3 separate regions of the Homo sapiens genome follow, and all the other regions are linked to region 3. The links come from fine-mapping of genetic effects on gene expression. A gene starts in region 3. Each other region holds a variant in brackets. All regions are shown on one strand. Distances are between the middles of the regions. Region 1 holds the start of LOC124901145 (a long non-coding RNA gene). Region 2 overlaps UIMC1 (ubiquitin interaction motif containing 1). Region 3 holds the start of HK3 (hexokinase 3).

Evidence for each region.
Region 1: its variant is fine-mapped to the expression of HK3 in whole blood (TOPMed, PIP 0.91).
Region 2: its variant is fine-mapped to the expression of HK3 in whole blood (TOPMed, PIP above 0.99).

Annotation. Positions count from the first base shown.
Region 1 is chr5:176,981,409-176,991,325 of GRCh38, reverse strand. UIMC1 (ubiquitin interaction motif containing 1) reads left to right here. Exons shown (of 15, transcript NM_001199298.2): 2 at 8,703-8,857. The coding sequence starts at 8,711. LOC124901145 (a long non-coding RNA gene) reads left to right here and starts at 8,864. Exons shown (of 2, transcript XR_007059073.1): 1 at 8,864-9,917. RefSeq lists a silencer at 6,371-6,571. The variant AC/C (reference allele first, on the strand shown) is at 6,178.
Region 2 is chr5:176,950,709-176,958,708 of GRCh38, reverse strand. It overlaps UIMC1 (ubiquitin interaction motif containing 1), which reads left to right. Exons shown (of 15, transcript NM_001199298.2): 7 at 555-616; 8 at 2,674-2,750; 9 at 7,132-7,235. Among named protein-coding and RNA genes, the nearest start is that of UIMC1, 52 kb to the left of the region's middle. The variant A/C (reference allele first, on the strand shown) is at 3,761.
Region 3 is chr5:176,893,053-176,903,205 of GRCh38, reverse strand. HK3 (hexokinase 3) reads left to right here and starts at 3,860. Exons shown (of 19, transcript NM_002115.3): 1 at 3,860-3,939; 2 at 7,021-7,142. The coding sequence starts at 7,047. RefSeq lists an enhancer at 2,539-3,040.

The DNA of each region.
Region 1 (9,917 bases), 88 kb before region 3:
AGGTGAATTAAAACTGAGGCCGGGCTTGGTGGCTCATGTCTGTAATCCCAGCACTTTGGGAGGCTGAGGCAGGTGGATCACGAGGTCAGGAGATCGAGACCATCTTGGCTAACACGATGAAACCCCATCTCTACTAAAAATGCAAAAAAAATTAGCCGGGCGTGGTGGCGGGCGCCTGTAATCCCAGCTACTCAGGAGGCTGAAGCAGGAGAATGGTGTGAACCTGGGAGGCAGAGCTTGCAGTGAGCCGAGATAGTGCCACTGCAGTCTGGCCTGGGCGAAAGAGCGAGACTCTGTCTCAAAAAAAATAAAAATAAAAATAAAAAATAAAATAAAAAATAAAACTGAGGACTTGATTAGTCATGATGGCTTGTGCTTCTAATCCTAGCATTTTAGGAGGCCAAGGCAGGAGGATCGTTTGAGGCCAGGAGTTCAAGACCAGCCTGGGCAACACAGCAAGACCCCCATCTCTTTAAAAAAAAAAATTAGCTGAGTGTTGTGGTGTACTCTTGTAGTCCTACCTACCTGGGAAGCTGGGGCAGGAGGATTCTTTGAACCTAAGAGTTACAGGTTGCAGTGAGCTATGATCATACACATTGCATTCAAGCCAAGGCAACAGAACAAGCCCCTATCTCAAGAAACAAAAACATAAATATAAAATCTATTTATATTAGAAATATGGCAACATTTGTACAAAGTTGCATGTGTTTTTTCCATTTCTGTTACAGTTTGGGGTTTAGAAAATTCACTTCTTGCGAATTAATATAAAATTAATTTATTTTAGGAAGTACAAATATGTCATCTTATTTGTGTTTTAATTTGTGTAATGGTAACTTGATAGGTTTTTAACCTTTTCCTGCTGCTATAACAGAATATCTTAGACTGGGTAATTTATAAACAATACAATTTTTTTTGTTCACAGTTCTGAAGTCTGGTAAATGTAAGATCAAGGTGCCTGATGAGGGCTTGCACTGTGCTTAAAAGATGGGACCTTCTTGCTGTGTCTTCACATGGCAGAAGGGTAAAAGGGGCAAACAGGTTCTCTTAGGCCTCTCTTATAAGGGCACTAGTCCCATTCATGAGTGCTGTGTCTTCATGACTTCCCTAAGTCCCCATTTCTTTCTTTGTTTTTGTTTTTTTTTTTTGTAACAGAGTCTCGCTCTGTTGCCCAGGCTGGAGTGCAGTGGCTCGATCTCGGCTCACTGCAAGCTCCACCTCCCGGGTTCACGCCATTCTCCTGCCTCAGCCTCCCGAGTAGCTGGGGCTACAGGCTCCCGCCACCACGCCTGGCTAATTTTTTTGTATTTTTAGTAGAGACGGGGTTTCACCATGTTAGCCAGGATGGTCTCGATCTCCTGACCTCATGATCTGCCTGCCTCGGCCTCCCAAAGTGCTGGGATTACAGACGTGAGCCACTGCGCCTGGCCCCAGGCCCCATTTCTTACCAACACATTGGGGATTAGATGTCAGCATATGAATTTTGGAGGGACACAAACATTTAGACCATAGTGGATAGGTCATATCTAGTTATCTAGTGAGATGTTACTGCTTTAGTATGAATTTATGTATACTTAAATAATAACTAGCTACCTCTGCATTGCATATGCAATAAATATTCTGTTAACTGTATTTAAATACAGAAGTTAAAAGTATATTTCTTTTTTTTTTTGAGGCAGGGTCTTGGTCGGTTGACTAGGCTGGAGTGCAGTGGTGTGATCTTGGTTCACTGCAACCTCCATCTCCTGGGTTCAAGCAATCCTGCCCCAGCCTCTCCAGTAGCTGGGTCTGCAGGCATGTGCCACCACACCCAGCTAATTTTTGTATTTTTAATAGAGATGGGGTTTCACCATGTTGTCCAGGCTGGTCTCAAACTCTTGTCCTCAGATGATCCTCTCACCTTGGTCTCCCAAAGTGCTGGGATTACAGACTTGAGCCACTGCGCCTGGCTAATTTTTTCATCTTTGTAATTTCTTGTTCTTTAGTCATTAAAAATATGCATTAAATGCAGAAAAGGACGTTTGTGTGTCGAGTTTTATCATGGGGAATGATTTTGTAAATTGTAAGCATCTGTGTGTGTATGTTGTTACTATCCCTTAATTTAGAATTTTTTAATCCTTTAAGTGTTTTTTTTAGAAAAACTTTAATGCTAGTATTGTACAGACTACTTCTGATAATAAGATGTAACAACCCCCTTAGGAGTAATTGAATGGTTTGAGAAGTTTGTTACAAAGTTAAGGTGGCTTTATTTAAATCTGTGATTGAGTCAGTGATTCTCTGCTCTGGCTGTAAAATAAAATCATCCGGGGCTCCCCTTTTTAAAAAATTGAGGTAAAATTCACCTAACAGGCTGGGCACGGTGGCTTACCCTGTAATCCCAGCACTTTGGGAGGCCAAGGTGGGTGGATCATGAGGTCGAGAGATCGAGACCATCTTGGCCAACATGGTGAAACCCCATCTCTACTAAAAATACAAAAATTAGCCTGGCGTGGTGGCACATGCCTGTAGCCCCAGCTGCTTGGGAGGCTGAGGCAGGAGAATTGCTTGAACCCGGGAGGTGGAGGCTGCAGTGAGCAGAGATCGCACCACTGCACTCCAGCCTGGCAACAGAGTAAGACTCTGTCTCCAAAAAAAAAAAAAAAAAAAAAATTCACCTAACAAAATCTACCATTTCAGTCATTTTAAGTGTACAATTTGGTGGCTTTTAATAAATTCACAGTGTTGTGCAATTACCACTTTCTAATTCCAGAACATTTCTATCATCCCCAAAATAAACCTTATATCCATTAAGCAGTCATTGTACATTTTCCCCTATCTCATCTTCTGGTAATCACTAATCTGCTTTCTGCCTATGGATTTGCCTATTCTGGATGTTTCTTATAAATAGAATCATACAATATGTGCCTTTTATGTCTGGCTTCTTTCGCTTGGCATGTTTTCAAGGTTCATCCATGTTGTAGCATGTATTAATACTTCATTCCTTTTGTTTCCCCATAGTGGCTACACCATTTTACATCCTATCAATAATACAGTGTACTAGAGTTCCAGTTTCTCCAGCATCCTTACCAACACTAGTTATTTTCCATTATTTAAAAAATAGCCAGCCATCAGAGTGGGTATAAAGTGATATTTCATTGTGGTTTTGATTTGCGTTTCCCTCATGATTAATGATTTGAGTTTTTTTTTTTTTTTTTTTTTGGACAGGGGCGTAGTCTGTCACCCAGGCTGGAGTGCTGTGGCACGGATATTGGTTCACTGCAGCCTTGACCTCCTGGGCTCAATTGATCCTCCATCCTCCCACTTGAGCCTCCCAACTAACTGGGACTACAAGTGCGCCACCACATCTGGCTACATTTCGTATTTTTTGTATAGGGTTTTGCCGTGTTTCCTGGGCTGGTCTCAAACTCCTGGGCTTAAGTGATCCACCAGTCTTGGCCTCTCAGAGTTTTGGGATTACAGCCCACTCTGCTGGGCTACTTTTACGTTTGATGTCTTTTTTTTTTGTGAGACAGGGTCTTGCTCTGTTGCCCAGGCTGGAGTGCAGTGGTGTGATCACAGTTTACTGCAGCCTCAACCTCCTGGGCTTAGGTGATCCCTCCTCCTTAGCCTGCCAAGTAGCTGGGACTACAGGCATTAGCTGCCATGCCTGGCTAATGTTTATTTTTATTTTATTTTTTTGAGACAGGGTCCCACTCTGTCACCCAGGCTGGAGGGCAGTGGTGTGGTCTTGGCTCACTGCAACCTCTGCCCTGGGTTCAAGCAGTCCTTTTACCTCAGCCTCCTGAGTAGCTGGGACTACCTGTGTGCACCACCATGCCTGGCTAGTTTTTTTATTTTTATTTTTTGGTAGAGATGGGGTTTCACCATGTTGGCCAGGCTGGTCTCAAACTCCTCACCTCGAGTGATACACCAGCCTCAGCCTCCTAAAGTGCTGGGATTATAAACATGAGCCACTGTGCCCAGCCAGAAATATAATTTTTAAAATTTCAGTTTTGATTGTTTATGTCTAGCATATAGGAATGCAATTGGTTTTTGTATGTTGACTTGTTTCCTGCATTGATACAAGGCAAGATAACCTTGATGAACTGTTGATTTTGTTGTTGTTTTGAGATGGAGTTTCGCTCTTGTCGCCCAGGCTGGAGTGCCAATGGCACGATCTTGGGTCACTGCAACCTCTGCCTCCCGGGTTCAAGTGATTCTCCTGCCTCAGCCTCCCAAGTAGCTGGGATTACAGGCGCCCGCCACCACGCCTGGCTAATTTTTGTATTTTTAGTGGAGACAGGGTTTCACCATATTGGCCAGGCTAGTCTCAAACTCCTGACCTCAAGTAATCTGCCCGCCTCAGCCTCCTGAAGTGCTGGGATTACAAGTGTGAGTCACTGTACCTGGCCTATAATAGTTTTTTAATGTGTTTCTTAGTGTTTTTTTTTAAACACAGGTCATGTCATCTGCAAATCGTGATAGTTTTACTTCTAAGTTGAGTATCTTTTATTTCTCTTTGCTTAATTGTTCTGCCTAGAACCCTAAGTATAATGTTCAATGATTAAAGCAGACATTGTTTTTTTTGAGATAGAACCATGCCCTGTTGCCCAGGCTGCAGTAGCTGGGACCACAGGCATGCCACCATGCTGAGCTAATTTTTTAATTTTTTGTAGAGACAGGGTCTTGCTATGTTGATGAGGCTGGTCTCTTAACTTGTGGGCTCAAGCCATCCTCCTGCTTTGGTCTCCCAAAATACTGGGATTATAGGTGTGAGCCAGTGTGCCCAGCCTTTTTTTTTTTTTTTTTTTGGAGACAGGGTCTTGCTCTGTTGCCCAGTTGCCTAGGCTGAAGTTCATCGGCATGATCATAGCTCATGGCAGTCTCAAACACACTCAAGCTATCCTCCTGCCTCAGCCTCTTGAGTAGCTGGGACTGTAGGTGCTCACCAGTGTGCCTTACTTTTTTTTTTTTTTTTTTTTTTTTTTTTGAGATGAAGTCTTACTCTGGCACCCAGGCCGGAGTGCAGTGGCACAATCTCAGCTCACTGCAATCTCCACCTCCTGAGTTCAAGTGATTCTCCTGCCTCAGCTTCTGGATTAGGTGGGATTATAGTCACACGCCACCACGCCGAGCTAATTTTTGTGTTTTTAGTGGAGATGGGGTTTTACCATGTTGGCCAGGCTGGTCTCGAACTCCTGACCTCAGGTGATCAGCCCACGACGGCCTTCTATCCTGTAGACACAGGATGCCATGTCTTGTCTCTACAAAAAAAAAAATACGTTGCATAGGATGGTCTCAAATTCCTGACCTCAAGTGATCCTCCTGCCTTGGCCTCCCAAAGTGTTGGGATTACAGGGGTGAGCCACTGCGCCCAGCTGAAAGGAAACATTCTTGTCTTGCTCCTTGTCGAAAGGAGAAAGCATTCAGTCTTGTACCTTTAAACATGATGTTAGCTTATTAGTTATGGGATTTTTGTAGAAGTCCTTTATCAGGTTGAGGCATTTGGTATTTAAAAAATCTTAACCTAGTTAACATAGTGAGATCCTATCTTATAAGGAATAAAAAGTAAATTAAATTAGCCAGGTGTGCTGGCACACCCCTGTGGTCCCAGCTGCACAGGAAGCTGAGGTGGGAGGGTTGTTTGAGCCAAGGAGGATGAGGCTGTGGTGAGCTACGATCATGCCACTGCACCCTAGCCTGGGTGACAGAGCGAGACCTTGTCTCAAAAAAGAAAAAAAACTTGTAGGTAAATTATAATATGTAGTCAAGAAAAGCAATTATCTAAATTGATGTTTAAAGAACTAGGATACATGACTATATTATTGATACTGAAATTTCACCATGGAGAATGAGATTTGTATATTTATATAGTTGTTTTTTTTTTTTTTTTGAGACAGAATTCCCCTCTTGTTGCCCAGGCTGGAATGCAGTGGTGCGATCTCAGCTCACTGCAACCTCCGCCTCCCGGGTTCAAGTGATTGTCCTGCCTCAGTCTCCTGAGTAGCAGGGATTACAGGCATGCGCTACCACGCCCGGCTAATGTTTGTATTTTTAGTAGAGACAGGGTTTCACCATGTTGGCCAGGATAGTCTCCAACTCCTCACGTCAAATGATCCACCTGCCTCAGCTTCCCAAAGTGCTGGGATTACAGGCATGAGCCACTGTGCCCAGTCTATGTTTCTCTCTATAGAAAAAAAA[AC/C]CATTTTTTCCCTATATTTTTCTAAAAAAAATTCCTCTATATTTTTATTTTTTGTATTTATTGATCATTCTTGGGTGTTTCTTGGAGAGGGGGATGTGGCAGGGTCATAGGATAATAGTGGAGAGAAGGTCAGCAGATAAACACATGAACAAAGGTCTCTGGTTTTCCTAGGCAGAGGTCCCTGTGGCCTTCCGCAGTGTTTGTGTCCCTGGGTACTTGAGATTAGGGAGTGGTGATGACTCTTAACAAGCATGCTGCCTTCAAGCATCTTTTTAACAAAGCACATCTTGCACTGCCCTTAATCCATTTAACCCTGAGTTGACACAGCACATGTTTCAGAGAGCACGGGGTTGGGGGTAAGGTTATAGATTAACAGCATCCCAAGGCAGAAGAATTTTTCTTAGTACAGAACAAAATGGAGTCTCCTATGTCTACTTCTTTCTACACAGGCACAGTAACAACCTGATCTCTCTTTCTTTTCCCCACATTTCCCCCTTTTCTTTTTGACAAAACCGCCATCGTCATCATGGCCTGTTCTCGTTGGTCGCTGTCTCTTCGGAGCTGTTGGGTACACCTCCCAGATGGGGCGGCCGGGCAGAGGCACTCCTCACTCCTAGATGGGGCGGCCAGGCAGAGGCACTCCTCACTCCTAGATGGGGCGGCCAGGCAGAGGCGCTCCTCACATCCCAGACGATAGGCAGCCGGGCAGAGGCGCTCCCCACTTCCCAGACGGGGTGGCGGCCGGGCAGAGGCACTCCTCACTTCCCAGACGGGGAGGCCGGGCAGAGGCACTCCTCACTTCCCAGACGGGGCGGCCGGGCAGAGGCACTCCCCATTTCCCAGACGGGGTGGCGGCCGGCAGAGGCGCTCCTCACATCCCAGATGGGCCGGCCGGGCAGAGGCACTCCTCACTTTCCAGATGGGGCGGCCGGGCAGAGGCGCTCCTCACTTCCCATTCGGGGCGGCCGGGCAGAGGCGCTCCTCACTTCCCAGACAGGGCGGCCGGGCAGAGGCACTCCTCACTTTCCAGACAGGGCGGCCGGGCAGAGGCACTCCTCACTTCCCAGACGGGGCGGCCGGGCAGAGGCACTCCTCACTTCCCAGACGGGGCGGCCGGGCAGAGGCGCTCCTCACTTCCCAGACGGGGCGGCCGGGCAGAGGCGCTCCTCACTTCCTCCCAGACGGGGCGGCTGGGCAGAGGCACTCCTCACTTCCCAGATGGGGTGGCCGGGCAGAGGTGCTCCTCACATCCCAGATGGGGTGGCGGCCGGGCAGAGGCACTCCTCACTTCCTCCCAGACGGGGCAGCCGGGCAGAGGCGCTCCTCACATCCAAGACGATGGGCGGCCAGGCAGGGGCTCCTCACTTCCTAGACGGGGTGGCGGCCGGGTAGAGGCGCTCCTGACTTCCCAGACGGGGTGGCCGGGCAGAGGGGCTCCTCACATCCTAGACGATGGGCAGCCAGGCAGAGACACTGCTCACTTCTTAGATGGGGTGGCGGGCGGGCAGAGGCTGTAATCTTAGCACTTTGGGAGGCCAAGGCAGGCGGCTGGGAGGTGGAGGTTGTAGCGAGCCGAGATCATGCCACTGCACTCCAGCCTGGGCAACATTGAGCATTGAGTGAGCGAGACTCCGTCTGCAATCCCAGCACCTCGGGAGGCCGAGGCGGGCAGATCACCCGAGGCCAGGAGCTGGAGACCAGCCCGGTCAACATGGCGAAACCCGGTCTCCACCAAAAATACAAAAACCAGTCAGGAGTGGCGGTGCGTGCCTGGAATCCCAGGCACTTGGCAGGCCGAGGCAGGAGAATCACGGGAGCCTGAGGCAGGGAGGTTGCAGCGAGCCAAGATCGTGGCAGTATCAGCAACAGAGGGAGACTGAAGAAAGGAGGGAGAGGAGGAGGGGGAGGGGGAGAGGGAGAGGGCTATATTTTTAATGAGTAGTAGACAAGTTAAGAAATGCAGTTTTGCTTCTGTTAGATAGGGTTATCTTTTTCTTTTACAAGATTAAATTGAGGCTGGGCATGGTGGCTCACTCCTGTAACCCCAACACTTTGGGAGGCCAAGGCGGGCAGATGACCTGAGGTCAGGAGTTCAATACCAGCCTGGCCAACATGGTGAAACCCAGTCTCTACAAAAATACAAAAATTAGGCTGGATGTGGTGGCTCATGTCTGTAATCTCAGCACTATGGGAGGCTGACACGGGTGGATCACCTGAAGTGAGGAGTTTGAGACCAGCCTGGCCAACATGGTGAAACTCTGTCTGTACTAAAAATGCAAAAATTAGCCAGTGTGGTGGCGTGTGCCTGTGGTCCCAGCTACTCGGGAGGCTGAGGCAGGAGGATTGCTTGAACCTGGGAGGCAGCGGTTGCAGTGAGCCAAGATCGTGCCATTGCACTCCAGCCTGGGCAACAAAGCGAGACCATCTCAAAAAAAGACTAAGTTGAATAGCTTCTAGAAAACTTATACTTTAAGTAAATTATGATCTTTTTATTCTAGACAAAATTATTGTCCTTTTATTCTAGACAAAAGGATGCCACGGAGAAAGAAAAAAGTTAAAGAAGTCTCCGAATCTCGGAACCTGGAGAAGAAGGATGTGGAAACTACCAGTTCTGTCAGTGTGAAGAGGAAGCGTAGACTTGAGGATGCATTCATTGTGATATCCGATAGTGATGGAGAGGTTAGTGAAGTAGAGCTGAAAAGTAGAGCTGTAGCTCTCAAACTATGCTTCTTTACCCATGGGGAGTTTGTTTCGTGACTGACTTCACCTTAATGCCAGCTCACCAAAACCATGAAATTTTTACTCAGCTTTGTTTTAATTTGTAAATGGAATGAAGAATTACTTAAGGTAGTAATCCTGTTGCTTGGTTGAGGATGGATCATAGTTCTTCAGTTTTATAATATAGTAATCCAAAGTGGCATTTTGGAACTATTTGAATCATCTAAATCAATTGTAAATCTTAGTTTTCATGTGTCTAGAAAGTGAGAGGAAAAACACGTGAATGTTCTTAAGTCTCTTGATATGTTCTACATATAATAGCACCTAGCCATCTGTAGCTGTTTAAAAATAACTAAAATTAAAAATCAGCTTCTCTGTTGCACTAGTCACATTTCAAGTGATTAAAGACACATAAGGCTAGTGTCAGTTGTATTAGACAGCAGAGCTATACAACATTTTTATCATTTTAGAAAGCTTTATTCTCCGGAATAAAGATTGTAACCTTTTTCCTTTATCCTGTATTTCTATTTGTTTATTGGAGTTTTCTGCCTGCCTGCAGGTCTCATCTCAAAGGCAGTGAATTAAGTCATTGTTTTTTCCTTCAGATTTTCTTCTCTTTCTCCTATATATTTTTTTTTTCTAGAGCCAGGGTCTCCCTCTGTCACCTAGGCTGGAGTGCAGTGGTGTTAGCTCAGCTCACTCCACCTTCCTTCTCCTGGTCCCACCTCAGCCTCCCATGTAGTTGGGACTACAGGCTCAAGCCATTATGCCTGGCTAATTTTTGTATTTTTTTTTGTAGAGATGGGGTTTCGCCATGTTGCCCAGGATGGTATCAAACTCCCATCCTCAAGCAATCCTGCCTAGGCCTCCTGAGGTGCTGGGGTTACAGATGTGAACCACTGCATCTGGCCAAAAAATGACATATTTTTGGTTAGCAAGATTGAGCATTTCTTTACATCTTTATTGATTTTTCAGAAACGTTTCTTGGCCGGGCACGGCAGCTCACACCTGTAATCCTAGC
Region 2 (8,000 bases), 57 kb before region 3:
TTTGTAGCAAAAAGAATCTTTGTAACCTTCCCTTTAGATGTCCTGTGTTATGGCTTGGTTTTTCTCAAAGATCATAGATTGCAGTGTTTATCTCAACTCAGTATTTCCTTTGAAAATTGAACTTTTCTCTATATTTTCCTTTCCCCCATGCAAACTTTTTGATTGTTTTTCTGAAATCATAATTCATTTGACTTACCAGTTAATATTGATACAGGTCTTGCATGTTATGAAGTGCATTGTGTACATTATCTTGTTTAATTTTCACAACACTCTGTGAGGCAATTGTTAATACCCATTTTAAGATGAGGAAAGAGATTCAGATGTCATTTACCCAATCACAAATTTAGTAAGTGATTTAGTTCTGATTTAAATACCAGTCTTCTGACTTTACAGGATGTGCTTGTTTTATTGACACTTACTGGCTTATGGAAAATATTTTCTTCTTATTGTTAATTGTTGAGGGAGAACATTGAACAATTAAATTTTTTTAAAAAAGGAAGAGAAGCCAGTTCACCTGTGCCTGTATATTTAAGATACTACGTATTTCTTTGCAGTCTTCCCAAGGGATTGTTGAAGAAACTTCTGAAGAGGGAAACTCTGTACCTGCTTCACAAAGGTGAGAGATTATATGTTGCTATGCATTCTCCTCTGATGGTTGCCAGCATAAGGGAGATGAACCACATGAGTGAGACTGTACGTGGACAGCTTGCCAGAGAACTTTTAGCTCTTTTATAAGTGAAGACTAGGAGAAATTTTATTAGTATCTCTAAGTTCTCAGATGTGCATCTCATAGAAGCCCAGAATATTAAGAGCTGGAAGAGATCCTAGAGGTCATCTTGTCCAGGCCAGCTATCTTGGCATAAATCTCATTTACATTATTTCTGAAAAGCGGTCACATCCTGCAATTCTCTTAACTAATTACACTAGTTTTCTATGCCAATTTGAAGGCTCTAGACTGATTTCTTTATAGTCCTTCTATTCTTAGCCCCTTTCTCTCTTTTCCCCAACTCTGCTTATGCTTATTTTATCTGTATATCTAAACCTTATACATCTTTTAAATTTACTCTTGAGACTTAACATCCTCTTCAAAGTCTTCATATTATTCAGGCCACACAGGACCTGTGTCACTCTCACTGTCTGTCCTGTGCCACTTTTAATCCGTTTGTGCCTCCTATCTCCTGTAAAGGATGGTATTTGCATTACCTCCTCCATTGTTCTTGCTGATTGATTGATGGGCTTACCTTCTAAGTCTTCTTACTTTAATAATAGATAGCAGTTGATTAATTATAAACTGCACTATTAACTGGATCATGCTTCCAGTTACTTTCCACTTGCCCTTTTTATCTAGTAGTTGAGTTTTGAGACTTTCTCAAGAGCTTAGTTTTGAACTGCATGACTGTTCTCCCATATGAGAGTTGAAGCCCACTTGCCATTTGCTGTAGTCAAGGTGGTGGTCTTTCTTAGGCTTCTGGTTGATAGTACTTGGTATTCCTTCCTGGGCTAAAGAATATGGCTTTGGTTTGATTTTCCTGCTGTTAAGACAGTTTTGGAAGTGGTTTTAACAGAGTATGCCTTTACTCCCTATAGGCCTCTCTGCTTTATTGTGGTGAGCCTTGTGCAGAGCAGATGTAGGTTTTAATAAATGATTATACACTTTGTCACCAGGAGAGAGTTGGAATCGCAGGCAATGTGGTTTGACTTCAAATTGATTAGCCCATTTTATAAATGTCAGAAAATTGTTTTGTGATGGACCCTTTGAATAGAGCACTAATGTTACATGCAGAGTAAACTGTCTGGCTGGGGTTTATAACAAATGCTATGAGATGTTTTATTTAGAGATAAATCACTTGTGGTTTTCTATCAGGATTTAGTTATTTATCATGAGTTCAGTTGTAGCTATTCTGTCTTCTCTGTGGTTCTTGGTTGATGTGAGGATTTTTGTTTTCAAGCATCCTCTTGCATACTTGATCAAACTAATCGTAAAGCCCTGTGAAGCATGAGGGGGCTAGCTCAGATGCTCAGATCAGCCATGTATTCCTATGTCAGGAAGAGATTGCACTCCATGAGCAGTCAGGGAAAACCAGAAGGTTGGATGAAGGAAGCCATTCATAATTAAGTTTTTGTTAGAAAAGAGATTCAATTTATGTGGGCAGATTTTTGCTGTAGGGCAGTTTGGAATTGTTTTTTATTTTTGTTGCATGGAAAGCAACATCTTGAGATAAAGAGGAGATTTAACTGCAAAAGGAGGAGAAAGTGTGTTGTCAGAAGAATCTCTGTGTCTTCTCTTGTCAGTTTACAAATCTCTAGCCTTCAGAAGGCTGAGATGGAGGCTATAAAACACCTTTGACATCCTTATATTGGAGTGGAGTTTTTGCCTTCTCTGATATTCACAGACAGTTCTCACCCTTCAACCTTCCTTTGTGAAAACTCCAAAAGGGAATTTGTTTTCATTCAGTGATTTCACTGGAACTGAAGTTGTAAGCATATTTATTTTCCATATTTCTGGTCTGGAGTTTTCAGTACTGATTCCTTGCTTTCCTATTGTGCTTTTGTGGTATTAGGCAGCAAGTATCTGTGATTACCTGTGGCTTTGTGAGTGACTCACCATTGCTTTTGGCTCTATGTTCTGATTTATTTTACTGGGAATTCATTTGGGATTTGGTTCTCTTTCAGTGTTGCTGCTTTGACCAGTAAGAGAAGCTTAGTCCTTATGCCAGAGAGTTCTGCAGAAGAAATCACTGTTTGTCCTGGTAAGTACCCCACTGTGATTTTACTGAATTTCTGATACCTATTTACCTTTTCATGCCTATTAATTTTCCTCTGACTCTTCAAACCTACTCTCTGGAGGTTTGTATGTAATTGATACGTGTATGTACATGTCTCAACACTCGTATGCGTATACACATATAGGTGTTTTTAATGGCCATTGGCTTTTATTCTCAATCTTTTCTCTCCTTAGGGGTAATTTAGTTTTGAAATTAACATGACTTTTTTTGTCTTCTTGATTGTTTACAGGCCTCATCAGAGATGGCAGCAAAGCATCAGGAATAGCATTTGCTTAACTGTACATTCAGAGCCTTTTGTTATTTAATTTGTTTAAATTATTTTAAATTAAATTGTTTTAAATTATTTTGTCAGCCAGCCTGGAGTGCGGTGGTGCAATCATAGCTCACTGCAGCCTTGAACTTCGGGGCTTAAGTTCTCCCTCCTTGGCCTCCCAAAGTGCTAGGATTACAGATGTGAGCCACTGTGCCTGGACTTCACAGCCTTTTAGTAGTTAGTTTTTATATTGCCATTTGTTGGGGTCTTACTGCATAGGAGGTTCAGAAATTGAGTTTTGTGCATGTTCTGTCATTATTTTTAATCTTAGACCTAAGATGCTTAACCTCGTTAAGTGCTTTAGTTTGCTTTTTGTTAATTGTAAAAATTAAAAGATAGGTACTTTGTTTTAGGTAGAAGAGATGCTCATTCAAAGTTGCACATGGATAGATTTAGATATACAAAATAATGTAAAATGAACTAAGATACTTACCATCTAAGAAACTCCTGAATCATTGTATAATATGAAGCATTATTTTGTGATATGAACCACTACTTTCTAAGGAATTTGTTTTAGACTATATTTTCCTTTCTGGCTTTTCTGAAAAGATCATTAGCCTCATTCCTGTGAGATTGAGGGACTTCCTACTGATGTTTAACTTTGAACAGCAAGTATACAGATGTTGCCCTAAGTCACATCTGGTTTTCCCTCAGGTCTCGT[A/C]TAGCCTATAAGGATTAGAGATAATCATAGTTTTCTTATTTTGGTTTCCTTCAATGTTTTTCCACAGAGACTCAAACTTAGTTTGCATGTAATCTAGGAAAGACCTATAAATATTTTTAAACATCTGGCAGTCTATCATAAAGGTCTTTATTTATTTTAAAAATCGGACTATGTTGGCTTTTTTCTTTTTTTTTTTTTTTTGAGACAGAGTTTTGCCCAGGCTGGAGTGCAGTGGCGCAGTCATGGCTCGCTGACTGTAACCTTGAACTCCTTGGCTCAAATGATCCTCACTCCTCAGCCTCCCGAGTAGCTAGGACTACAGGCATGTGCCACCACACCTAACTAATTTTAAAAATTATTATTATTATTTTTTTTTAGTAGAGACGAGGTCTTGGTGTGTTTCCCAGGCTGACCTTAAACTCCTGAGCTCAAGTAATCCTCCCGCTTTGGCTTCCTAAAGTGCTGGGGATTAGGCATGAACCATCGTGCTCAGCCTATGTTGGTTTTTATTGAAAGTGGCTCCTTAATTCATTTGAAATGTGTTTGGATTACTGCCTAACAATACCCACTAAGAGACTACACTACCGAGTGCTCAGATTTTGGCAGGAGCACTCAAGAATACTGTGCTACCTTTGTGAAAAGAAAGCTTTCCCCCTCTGTCTGGGACTACTGACTTCCTAGAAGGAAATCACTCAGTCTGTTTAGGATGATGGCGTGTGACATCACCATGGGATCTTGCAGGAGGAACCTGCAAATATATTGATCTTGAAAGGCCTAGTTAATGAGAGGGAAAAGCAGGCCCTTCATACTGAGGTTAGATAGCTTTTATGATCATGACTTGCTGTCATTAGCCTGCTAATTAAGTCCAACTGTTTGCTGACATAAACCACTTCTAAATGAGATTGCAAAAGGTATTCATTACATTAATGTTCCTTTTGCTAAGAAAGTATAACTGCTTCACCATGAAGCCAAACTCCTGGGTTTCTTTTTAAATATATAATTTAGAAGTTATATATATAAATTATCTGAAAAAATTTGTTCCAAATGGGTGAAACACATATTTAGTGTAGTAGACTGTTACCTGTTTACTTTTGTTTCATATTTCTGACAGTTCAGGAGTCTAATATTTAAGATTACAATATCTTTTTAGTGTTACTTAGTTGAAGAAGCAGGATTATAGCCTTATGCCTACATTTTGCATGCTTCTAGCATTGCTTTTTTCTGAGAAGCTAATGCCCTCTTAGTTGGACATTTCAGCCATTCACAGAAAGCATAATTGAAGACTTTTTATTATTGCAGTAATCTAAGCAGTGAATGGTTCTTACTTTTAAATATGCTGAATATCTTTTTGAAAATACCTTTAGGGAAAGTTGACAGGATTTTGAAGTTTATGTCCTGTAAGCCTTTTTCCAATAAGGTGTGTGTGTGTGTGTGTGTGTGTGTGTGTGTGTGTATGTGTCCAGTTTTCAAAAAAATTTGTGATGTATTAAAATATAATTAATTCTAGAAATGTATTTAATCCTTTCTTAATGATTCAGAAGATACATTAGAAACTTGCAGATGCCCTATTTGCCTGACATTGGCCATTTATTGTTTTGTGAAGCAAAGTGCTAATTAGAGGTACAGCAGGTATAGTGTCAGATAACAGAGAACTTACTGGATTTGCATTCTGAAATAAATGTCTGGTTTTAGTTTGGGTTCCTGTAACAAAATGCTCTAGACTGAGTGGGTTATAAGCAACATAAATTTATTTCTCACAGTTTTGGGGGCTGGAGAGTCCAAGATCAAGGAGTTGGCAGATTCAGTGTCTGGTGAGAGCCAGACAACTTCCCGCTGTGTCCTCACATGGTGGAAAGAGGGTGAGAGAGCTCTCTGGGGTCCCTTATAAAAGGGCACTAATCCCATTCTTTTGAGGGAAGGCCCTATGCTCATGACCTAATTACCTTCCAAAGGTCACATTTCCTAATATTATCACATTAGGGGTTGGGATTTCAACATACGAAGTTCGGGGGGTACACAAACATTCAGTCTGTAATGTTTCTTTTCCAGATACATTGGTGGTTTTGAAAGATAATTACTATTTTTTTTATTGTTGTTATATTAAGTGATATGTGTCTACAGCAGAAGTTGGCAAACTTTTTTTTGTGTGTGTGAGACAGTGTCTCACTCTGTAACTCAGGCTGGAGTGCAGTGGTGTGATCATAGCTCATTACAACCTTGAACTCCTGACCTCAAGTGATCCTCCCGCCTCGTCTTCCCAAAGCATTGGGATTGCAGGCATGAGTGACTGTGCCCAGCCAAACTTTTTAAAAATAAAAGACTAGATAGGAAATATTTTAGGCCCTGTGGGCCGTATAGTCTGTTGAGACTATTTGGTTCGGCCATTTTAGTGCAAAAACAGCCATAGACAGTACATAGATGAATGAGCATGGCTGTGTTCCAATAAAACCTTACTTAGAAAAATAGGCAGCTGACAGGATTTGGCCCATGAGCTGTATCTAGTTTTCTGGCCCCTGAACTAGACTACAAGGGACCCCATCTTAGATTTTCATATTACTGATAGCGAGTATAATGCCTGGGACTTGATGTTCAATTATTTGTTGAATTAATAGATGCTGCTTAAAGAATATATTAAAGAAAGGCATATCTTTGTCTAGAATGTATATTCTATTTCTGGTCCCAATTTCTGTTTTTGCTAATCATCTCTTTAACCTCAGCACTAACATTGGCAGGTTCTTGTTTTCTGTCAAATCAGTATACTTTAAAACTAGAATTACAGTGGAAATAAGCCAGTTGATCAGTTGGTCAATGAATAAACAAATTGTGATATATCTATACAATGGAATGCTACTCAGCAGCAAAAAGTATGAACTATTGATATTATGTGACGACATGGGTCCATCTCAGACACATTATACTAAGTAAAAGAAGCTGGACACAAAAGACATGTGATTCTATTTATATGAGAGACAAAATTATAGGAACATAAAGTAAACTGGTCATTATAAAGAGTTCATTGCAGTGACCAAAGAGGTAGGAGATTGACTGCAGAGGGGTACAGAGAACTTTTTGGGGTGTTGGAAATGTTTTATATCTTGATTATCGTAGAGGTTACATGGTATAAATGGTAGTATATAAATGGTATACATTTGTCAAAACACATTAAACTGTATACTGAAAATTTATGAATTCTGTTATTTGTAAATTATGCCTCAGTAAAGCTTTAAGAAGAAACAAACTAGATCTATTAATATATTGCCACCACAGTATTGTCATATCCTAAACTTTAGGTGAAAATAGGCATGTTTGTTTTTTTAATTATGAAAACACAAAATGAAAATTAATGGGATTTTAACTTTTTTAAATTACAGAGACCCAGCTAAGTTCCTCTGAAACTTTTGACCTTGAAAGAGAAGTCTCTCCAGGTAGCAGAGATATCTTGGATGGAGTCAGAATAATAATGGCAGATAAGGAGGTGAATATTTTCCTCTATATTTTTTCTCAGTGGTTTCTTTCCGTTGGCAGTCCTCTCTCTGATGCAACGTTGACATTGGCTGAAAAGATTTAGGTGGCAGGGGGTTTTAGTTTTGGGGGCCCTTATGTTAGGGAGAGATTTTTATAGTTAAGATTAGTTCAGCATTGTTTCTAAAAATAACAGTAGTTACCATTTCTTGAGTACTTTTGTATGCATTATTATTTCTATTAGAGATGGGGAAACAGAGGCTTAGGATGTTTAATTTGCTCTAAATCATACTACTAATAATGGTAGAAATATAATTTGAACACGGGTTTGAATCCAAAGTTACAGGGCATTTTTTATTATGTACCAATAAGTAACAGAGACAAACAGTCTTGGAAAAAATTACTATATTTATATTATGATGTATACATAACTTCCAGCCCTAATTTGATCAGAAATGCAAAGTCAAGATAGCTGTCTGATAAAATAAATCTATTTGCATCATTACCTTTCCTCACTTTACATATCTGGCAGTAACCATAAAGCTGATTGATACAGGTTCATACTTCTGATTAAGATTCTCGGTGTGTATATTTTTCCTTTTCTTTTCTTTTTTTTGGGATGGAGTTTCACTCTGTTGCCCAGGCTGCAGTGGCAGTGGCACGATCTCGGCTCACTGCAACCTCTGCCTTCCTGGTCCAAGTGTTTCTCCTGCCTCAGCCACCCGAGTAGCTGGGATTACAGGTGCACGACACCATGCTCAGCTAATTTTTATATTTT
Region 3 (10,153 bases):
ATAATGTGGATAAAGCTTTGATCCAGCACAATGTCATCACATAGAAGAATGAGTTAGTGGCAGCAGTTATTAATGTGATGCTAGTCTATGTGTCACAAATGATGTTGCACTGAGGGGTGGAGGGATGGGGGACGGGTGCAGATGCAAGAGGAGATAGTTTTCAGAGGAATGTGTACTCAGGAGGGACTACTCGGGCTCCATCAACCATCAGGCTTCCACAGGAAACTTGGGTCCCAGGCATCTAGAGTTCTCCTAGGGCCCCTGGATTTCTTTTACTTCTGAAAGATGAGAAATAGCTGTTCTGCTGATGCTGCCAACTCACGGAGAGCTGGGAAGCTCCATAAACTTCACAAGCTATTGCCGTAAATTGGAAGAGATAGAGGGGGACTTCTCTTTGTTAGGCGCTGTAGTTGTGCTTTTTCATTTAGTCCTTACAGCAGCCCCAGCAGAGGTTGTGCCTCGCCCATTTCCCCCAGGCATTCGCCATTCTGCTGTATACCCACAGAGTCCTGTTGCAAGTACCTGAGACTCTGCCTGAGGACTTCTCTTGGTTTGTGTTGGCACAAGCTGAGAGTACCAGGGAGTTAGTGCCCCTGGGACAGCTCTCAGCCAGTGGAAGTGGGAGGATAGATACCCCAGCTTCCTCACTCAGTGAGGGACAACTCTAAGGCACATTCTACCTATTTCTCAGGGTTCCCTGTGGGAGTGAACCTCTCTAAGCTCCCAGTAACAATTAACGTACACTTCCTTGGCTTCTTTCTCTTCCTACCTGGCTTCCAGCTCCTCTTCTGTATTTTCCTGATCAGGACTGGGACTAGGGTGATGAGCCTTTATTCTTGGGTTCATCTAAGTGCAAGGTTGGCACCCGTATGAACCTGAGAGGGTCTCTTTACATTCTGTACCCTAGGCATATCATTTGCATTGCCCTGATTCTGGCCCTGTCCTGGATCACTTCCCAAATAAAGTTATTTGCATTCAAATTAGGTCTGCCTCTGGGTTTACCTAACCTAAAGCAAATCCTATGAAGACATCAGTCTCCAAGTTTTATACAAGGAAAACCGAGGCTCAGAGGAATAAGAAATTTGTCTAAGGTCTTTCAGTTGGTAATGAGATGGGATTTTGAAACCAGGTCTGCCTGACCCCAGAGCTGAAGCTTTCTGTACTATAGCACACTACTTCCTACTTCTCATTTCAGTCACAAAACTAATGACTCAAGGGAAATTTCAGGTTTGGATGAGCTCATTTTTGCCTGTGAATCAGGGTAGCTTTGGCCTTAGGTTGTTAGCAGATGGGAATTTGGGGAGGGGAAGGCAGGTAGTAAGTGGATGAGAGGGTTGTAGTTGTCAGTGGAAAGATGGACTAGTGGAAAGACTGCTGAAACCATATGCACCAGGAAGACAGTAAGAGCTTGCTTGCTTCCTCTCAGTTTCAAAAGCCCTGGACTTTTTTTTTTTTTTTTTTTTTTTTTGAGACAGTCTTGCTCTGTCACCCAGGCTGGAGTACAGTGGCGTGATCTCGGCTCACTGCAACTTACCCTGCCTCCCAGGTTCGAGCAATTCTCTTGCCTCAGCCTCCCGAGTAGCTGGGATTACAGGTGCACACCACCACGCCCGGCTAATTTTTTTAATTTTTAGTAGAGACGGGGTTTCACTGTATTGGCCAGGCTGATCATGAATTCCTGACCTCAAGTGATCCGTCCACCTCGGCTTCCCAAAGTGTTGGGATTACAGGCGTGAGCCATCATGCTTGGCCAGCCGTGGACTATTGAGATTGTGGGAGGGCTCTTCAATTTAACAAAAATTAATTGATACTTGTTCCTTGCCAGATAAAGAACTGAGGTCTGAGGCTGCACGGGTGAATAAGAAACATTCTCTGGGAGCCCATAGTACAATGGGGAAGAAGAACACATAAACAGATGCCTTTAATAAACAGATATAAATGCAGTGATACAAGAACATGCATCATAATACGGAACCAATAAGCAGACCACACTCAGCTGGGGTCGGCCAGGAGGAGCTTTTCAGAGAAGGGCTCCTCATTGTCGTTGATGATTATAATTTAAGGGATGAGGAAAAATGAGGTGAAAAGGTGGGAGAGGCCAAAGGGAGGGTCATTCCAGACAAGTCAGTGCAAACAAAGACACAACAGAAGTAGCTCGATGTGTGTAGGAGAGCTGCAAGGCACATTCACGGTATAAAGGGTGTGGAACAAATTGGGGGAGCTTATTGAGGATCTCTGTGCCTGGCATGGGCACTGTGAGTGGTGAGAAGCCTGTGAGCAAGCGCAGAGGGAAGGCCTGACCTCCCAGCCCATCGGCAGTGCTCTGGTTGTGCCCACCTCTCCCCCAGCAAACTGCCTTTCCTCATTCCTTAGCTCCATCTCTACAGTTGGAGATTGGCACTAAGGGGCTATGAGGGAACCTCGTGAGGACTTGTCCTTCCCTTTGTTGGTCAGTGGCCATCTGGTGTCTGAAGAGAACCGCTGGCAGCTGCAGTGCCTCTGCTACAGCCAGGCTGTCCCAGCTGCTCACAGACCTCAAGCTCAGCCATCCTTCTCCCTCCACTGGCCTTGACCCAGACTTTCCCTGGCATTCTGACTAGGGAACCAGGACCCCTGCTCCTGGGGTCTGGACACAGACCTTCCAGAAACGCAGATGAAGAGCCCTGGCCATGCTTGTCAGGGGCATATCCTCACCCTGGCTCAAGAAATGGCAGGCTATCTGCATGAATCACAGCTGGGCCTTTCATAGTCAGTTCCACATTCTCCTCTCCCAACTGAACAAAGTTGAAAGGGACTGGGATCCCAGGCTAGGCAGGATGCTGTGTTGTTTGTGACAGCCACTCTACCCTCTGCCACCCCATCCCCCACTTCCCTGCCTTTCACAGCCTATATGCCTGGTTGGTACCCAGTAAACTTCACAGCAGGACTGATGTTTGGCATGTTTCCTGGCCTCTTCATGCCACTACTGATAGAGGAGCCACTATCTCTGGTCTCCATCCTGATGTCATGTGGAGGCCTACTATCTGTGGATAGAGTTACTGCTGACAAGGCAGCCTGAAGCTTTAAAGTGTATCCATGCCTTCAACAAAGATTGTTGCAGGCTGTCTAGTATTCTACATTGGTGCCCCAAGGTTCTGTGCCTTTGAGGAGAAATTCCCACAGAAAAACAGCTTGTTCGCCAATAGCTCCACAGCAGCCTAACACTCCCCTTCTTCCAGTAGAGAAGACCTAAGATGTGAACCTACTCTCCCTGCGCAGGCTACAGACTAAAGGCTAGACTCCGCAGTCTGCCTGTCACCTCCTCTCCCACTATATATTCCTACCTTGGTGTACCCTCTTCAGGCGCCTGGAGCTGCACCTCATTGCTGTGTGTGTGTGATTTGTGGTTGTGCACATGCTCTCCACTTTGTCAAGGACCACTTTTGTCAGCATACTGCTGTTCTTTCTTCAAGACTCAGCTTCTTCAGCTAGCCCTGCCCACTCTCGGCAGAGTCAGTCCCTTCCGCTTGTGCTCCCACATTGCCTCTTGCTCAAAAGTACTTACCATAACCTTTCCAGGCTAGGCGCCTCCAGCTCCTTCTAGGGGCGAGCCACCACCTCAGAACTCACTATATTTGCAAAATAAACAGCCCTCAGCATTGTAGAGGGAATGGCCCAAAATCTTAGACCCAGTTCAACGCTCCACTTCGCGGTAATCATCTTGCTCAAGTTTTCACCACAGCCTTGCCTAGCCTGGGCTACTCTTAGGGCAGGCTTGGAAGGAAGTGCAGCTTCCTGAATTAGCTGATGTTTGGTAAGTGGTGGTGGAGGAAAAGGGTGGGGCTTGAGGATATTATAACTCGGGTCACCCCTGAGTGTTGCTTTTGGTCATTGGGGTGCCTCATATTGCCAGACAAGAGCTCAGACCTGAGGAGAGTGACTAGCTTCTCTGTGTCCCAGGTAAGCACTTCGGTCTAATTACTGCCTGCTCCTTCCACAGCTGTCTTGTCCTCATCCCTCCTGTTTGGCTCACACCAGGGGAAGTGGACACTGGAAAGATTAAGCCAGCTGGTTCTCTTTCTTTGTTTTTGAGATGGGGTCTCTCTCTCTATCACCCAGACTGGAGTACAGTGGCACAGTCAGGGCTCACTCCAGCCTTGACCTCCTGGGTTCAAGTGATCCTCCCACCTCAGCCTCCGGAGTAGCTGAGACTACAGGCGCACACCACCACACCCAGCTAATTTTTGTTATTTTTTTCTAGCGATGGCGTTTTGCCATGTTGCCCAGGCTAGTCTCACATTCCTGGGCTCAAGCAGTCTGTCTGCCTCAGCCTCCCAAAGTGCTGGGATTACAGGTGCAAGCCACCACACCCAGCCTGCCAGCTGGTTCTCGATGGCAGCTCCCAACATCAGTAGAGGTCCCTGGGGTACTTTTCAGGAGGAAAACTCACTTCGTGTAGCCCATTCAGCTAAGGGAAGCCACGGGGCCCTTAGGCAAACAGACCCTGGGCTCTGGGGATACTGCAGTGAAGGAGACATGTCCCTCCCCACAGGGAATCTCAGTGGGAAGAGACAGAGCTGAATACATTTACCTAGCATATAAATATTAGGGCTACTTGGGGATTGCTTCACAGATTCTGTCATGTAAAAATGCTGAATAAATATTGAATGGATGAGGGAATGAATGAGTGAGTGAATGAATAAATGAACTAGCTGGGCCTTGAGAAAGACACGTGTGTAGCCCTTAGTCCTTTTCGAAGGTAATTGCCCCAGTTACCTCATTTTATCCTTGAAATAGACCTGCAGCATAGAACAAGAATTCCACACCCCTATTTGACAGATTTGGAAACTCAGCATAGGTATGTATGGTTTGGGGAGATTTATCAGAAGCTGATTTGTTGCTTTATTAAATAAAAAACTACCCACTCCCCTTGCTTCCAATTTTGGAAAGGCACATTAGCACATACCTATACCAGACCCTGTGCCGGCCATGAGTGCAGAGGTGATCAAGTTGGGTGGGGTAAGGAGGTGAAGAAACTAGAAGCAGAGCTATCAGTTTAGGAGGCTGTTGTAATAATCAGGCCGGAGGATGGTCTGGTGCAGTGTGTGGGAATGGGGAGGAGGGGATGCAGAGGAGAGCTCTTAGAGAGCCTGAGATCCAATTGCATAGAGGAGGTGAGGGTGAGGGATGCGCGCAGGCAGCCCGAACGGCCGTGTGAGTGAGCACACTTCGATGTCTCCAGTCAAGGTGGAGAACAGAAGAGCTTTGTGGGGGTAAGGTGATGGAAAAATGAGTATGGCTTTGTTGAATTTGAGGAGCTTCTCCACCATCCAGATAGTGATGTCTAACAGACCACTGGGATTTAGGATTTGGCTGAGGCCAAAGGTAGATTTGGGAGCCCTGACACAGCTATTAATGAAACCTTGGGAATGGGCGAGATAAAGGGAGTGTAGAGGGAGGGCATGACCGAAACTTGGGAACCCCATTGTCTGAAGGAACAGAAATTACTGATGAAGACTACGAGAGACTCAGGAAGGAGACCTAGGAGAGACTGGCCGTGAAAGCCAAGGACAGGGGGAATTCTGTAGCAAAGAGAATGACTACTGGCTTTGCATGCCTGAGAGAGGGCAGCAGAGGTGGGGACTGAGGAAAAGGCTTGGGATTGGGCAGTTAGGAGGTCACCAGTGACCACGTGGAGGGCAAATTAGTGAGCATAGTGGGAGTAGGCAAGGAGGGGAGTGTAGGGGTGGGAAGGTACTATATTTCCAGAAGTTCTGCTGTTGCAAGGAAGGGAGGTAAAGTGACTCAGTGGACAGATGTCTCTTCCCATATTGGGCCCTCTGCTGTGTTTCCCTTTTCCCCCACCCCTAAAGAGCACCTGACTCACTGAGGGCTCCCTTGGGACTATGGAAACAGCAATACCACCTCCAGCTCGGATGAGCGAAGTATCTGACATTTCTACAGTTCCTTACAGTGTGCAAAGGACCACTAACTCCTTTAATCCTCACAAGAACTGAGCTTTTCATGTTATAGAGGAAATGGAGAATCATAGAGTTTCAGTTCAGATTCAACTACATAAATCTGAATGCACATCTGAGCAAGTTCCTTTGCTCTCGTGATCTCATTTGCCCCACACAACCCTTTGATACATGTTGGTCCCATTTCACAGATGAAAAGCCTGGAGGTTGAGATGGGGTGCAGCTGCCTTGTGGAGAGCAGGGTTCCCACCTCTGAGTACAGGGCTCTTTCTGCTCTGCATCACTTCACTGTTAAAACCCACCTGATGTTTATGTTGCACACTACATCTCATAAAGCATTTCCCCAGGTGTTATTCTATTTAGTGCTCACAACAACCTTGTGAGGGTAGATATTATTTCCTCCTGTTTTATGGATGGAAGCTGAAATTCAAAGAAGTCATAAATGACGTCCAAGGTCAGGTCACTAGTGGAACCCCTTTCTGAAGCACAGATCCACCCCTGTCCATGACCCCTGTTGCCTTCAGGATGAAATTCATGTGCCTTAGCCTGGCACAATGGCTGTCCCTTTTCCAGCCTGCCTGCTTCTCTGGCAGGTCTTTGGTTCCCTCTTTGTTCCAAGCCTCTAGCATGTCCCTGACCTCCCAACCACAGCAGCATGTCCATCTATTACATGTGGCCATCTTGCTCACTGCCTGTGCTAATCATACTGTGATTGTTGATGAGACTGTGAGGTCCCTGAGGGCAGGGCCTAGGTCTGCTTCATCTGTACCACAACGTCCAGCATAGCAGGCATCAGGAACTGGTGAATGTCAATGAATGACAGAATTAACGAATGGCATTTGGACTGAAATCAGCCTTTCCAGTGCTCTCTCATTAGACATGCTTGTGAAAAACAAGGGCCTTCTGGTTGACTGCTACAGGATCTTTGATGGTTGGAGGTTCTGAATTCTGCTCCCAGCTTCCTTCCTGGTCCCCTTCAGAAGGAAGGAAGTTGGTCTGGGTTACAGACTCCTAGGGCCTATAGAGTAAATGGTTGACCCAGGTTGTCCCTTTTCTCCCATAGGTGGCCACCTTCCACTGTGGAAGCTCATGGACTCCATTGGGTCTTCAGGGTTGCGGCAGGGGGAAGAAACCCTGAGTTGCTCTGAGGAGGGCTTGCCCGGGCCCTCAGACAGCTCAGAGCTGGTAAGTTCAGCACTGGGTTCCTGTTTCATGCTTGTCTAAGGCCTTCAAGAGCAGCGTGACTGAAGCTGCCATGGGGCCCTGGGCTCTCACCCATGCAGCCCCTTTCCACTGAGCTTTTCATATCTGAGCTGGTAACGATCTCCTTTCATGCTCCAAACAACTGCAAGGTTGGGCTGATCATCTTACAGGTGATGAAGAGGGATATAGAGAAGTGTTATGACTTGAGTTTAAGACATGACAGGAGCTTGAGCTGAGGTGTTTCAGCTCCAAACATGTCATTTTTGCCACCTTGCCACACAGGTGCCGCTCCCGCCCCAAGTGGGTGACACAGTCTAGAGTGGACTTTCTCAGGGTTATCTGGTCAAAAGTTGTGTTCTTGAGACCTTTCCTTTCCCGCCTCTCCAGTTCCTCCTGCATGTCTCCCTCAATGTAGCCGCTACAATCAGGCACACAGACGATTTTAGTGCCAAACTCATGCCTGAGGCTTGCTCAGAAGTGAGTTTCTTCTTTTTCTGTCATCTTGACCAAGATTTAGAAGCTGTCTCATACCACACCCTTGAGCAGGAAACTCTTGTGTAAGCCATTTCATATCTCTTAGTCTCTGTTTCCTCATCAGTAAAATGGAGGAAAATAAAGTCTAATCCTCCCCACCCCCTGAAGGCTAATGGAGATAAAGGACTTGCCTATGGCCGGGCGCGGTGGCTCACGCCTGTAATCCCAGCACTTTGGGAGGCCGAGGCAGGTGGATCACCTGAGGTCAAGAGTTCAAGACCAGTCTGGTCAACATGGTGAAACCCCGTCTCTACTAAAAATACAAAATTAGCCGGCATGGTGGCACATGCCTGTAATCCCAGCTACTTGGGAGGCTGAGGCAGGAGAATCGCTCGAACCCGGGAGGCAGAGGTTGCAGTGAGCCAAAATTGTGGCAGTGCACTCCAGCCTGGGCAACAAGAGCAAAACTCCATCTCAAAAAAAAAAAAAAAAAAAGTCCGGGCGCAGTGGCTCAGGCCTGTAATCCCAGCACTTTGGGAGGCCGAGGTGAGCGGACCACAAGGTCAGGAGATCAAGACCATCCTGGCTAACACGGTGAAACCCTGTCTGTACTAAAAAATACAAAAAATTAGCTGGGCATGGTGGCAGGCGCCTGTAGTCCCAGCCACTCGGGAGGCCGAGGCAGGAGAATGGTGTGAACCCGGGAGGCAGAGCTTGCAGTGAGCCAAGATCGTACCACTGCACTCCAGCCTGGGTGACAGAGCGAGACTCTGTCAAAAAAAAAAAAAAAAAAAGGACTTGCATAGAGGAGGTGCCCACTAAAGGGTACTTGAGTCATTCTCTGCAGTTTCTTTAGTTTTCTGGCATATTCTGACATCCACTTGACTAGGCTTGTTGCCCAGATTGTGGAGGCATTACCCCTCGCTGCATTTCATGCTCCCACTTCCCCCTTGTCCAACCTGTACCCCAGACCCTGCTGCAGACAGTTCTTCTGTGCCTGACCCACAGCCGTGCCTCAGGAGTGACAGCGGTGGCTGGGCCACAGTGCCTGCCCAGCCAGGACTGGCTCTAGGGCCTGCTGTCATCTCCTCCCTCGCTTCTTGCCCCTCCCTGATGACACTCCTGTGCAGGCCCACATCTGCCCTGCTGGCTCCATCACATACACCTGCGGTTGAAAGAATCCCTTTCGGCTTTGGGGGACTTCACAGGGACACCAAATTTCCCATGGTCCTGGACCCCCAACTCAGCACCACAGGCCTTACCCTGTGCTCCCCTTGCCATGACCTTAGGTTGAAAAAAGTTAGTTAACCACGTGTGGCCAGTTCCCAGTACCATCTCAGAGGCCCTTCCCCACCCCTTCCACCAGGCTTCTCTTTGTCATCAGAGAGGGTATGGAGTCAGGCTCTCCAGGCTGGGTGTGCTTTGTGCTCTGAGGACAGGGAATCCGTGTTCCACTGAGCATCTCCTATGTGTGACACTGTTCCTCCACTTCAGGTTTGCTGTCGTCTCAGTCCTCATGGCATCTCTGAGAAGTAGGTACTATTGTTCCTGCTAGATAGAGGGGTTGCTTGCTCAGAGAGGTGAGGTGATGGGCCCAGGCCAGCAACACAGCAAGTTGGTGACAAGAGCCAGTGTTGAAACCACATTGGACTTCACATGCTCTCTAATGCCTTTCTCCTTGCTCTTCTGTCTGAGGTCTCTCCCTGCTCTTCCTGGGGTGTCAGGGGTGGCTCCGATAGCTTCTCCTGGCTTGTGTGTGCCTCACCAGGATCTGCCAGGGAAGTCCTTCTGTCTTTCTTGCAGTTCTGCTGTCTTCTAGTCTCTCCTCCCGAACATCTCAATATGCCCAAGAGGAAAAGGAAGAAAAACAATTTGCCCAAGCCATTGACTTCTCCGTGACTCTACTGTTTTCATGAAGCAATACTAAAACGCCCCTCCCATCCCAATGGCACTTGGCACTTCCACATACATTACAGCCTTTAATTCTTATGCCACCACAACCATCCAATCAACAAATCCTGCTTCCAGCTGGTGCTCCTCGTGGCCCTCAGATGTAGCCTTGAGCAAGACATAGTCCCTGGCATTGGGGGACTTCCAAGTACTATTATTTTCTCAGTTTTGCACGAAGAGGTGACTGAGGCTCAGAGAGAGGTGTGACTTTCCCAGGACTGCAGAGCCAGAAAAAGGGAGTGCGAGGACTCAGCTGTAAGTTTTCTCAAGCCGGATCATCTGGGGTTTCTTTCCAGCAACTTTCATCAGCCTTGAGTTCTTTTCAAGGGAACTTTCTAGGTTTTATAAAGCTTCACATTGACATAGAAACATCTCTGCATTCAGGTAGATATGGGTTCAAATTCTCCCCTGCCCCTTCACAGCTGCTTGGCCCTGCAGATGACTTGCCCTCTCGGAGTCTCCGTTTCCATATTTCTAACACTTGGGCAGCTGGGGCTCAGAGGGGCAAGGCTGAGACCCCGCCTGTCCTGCAGCTCTTTGACTTTGCTGCCCACTGCCTGAGTTCCTGG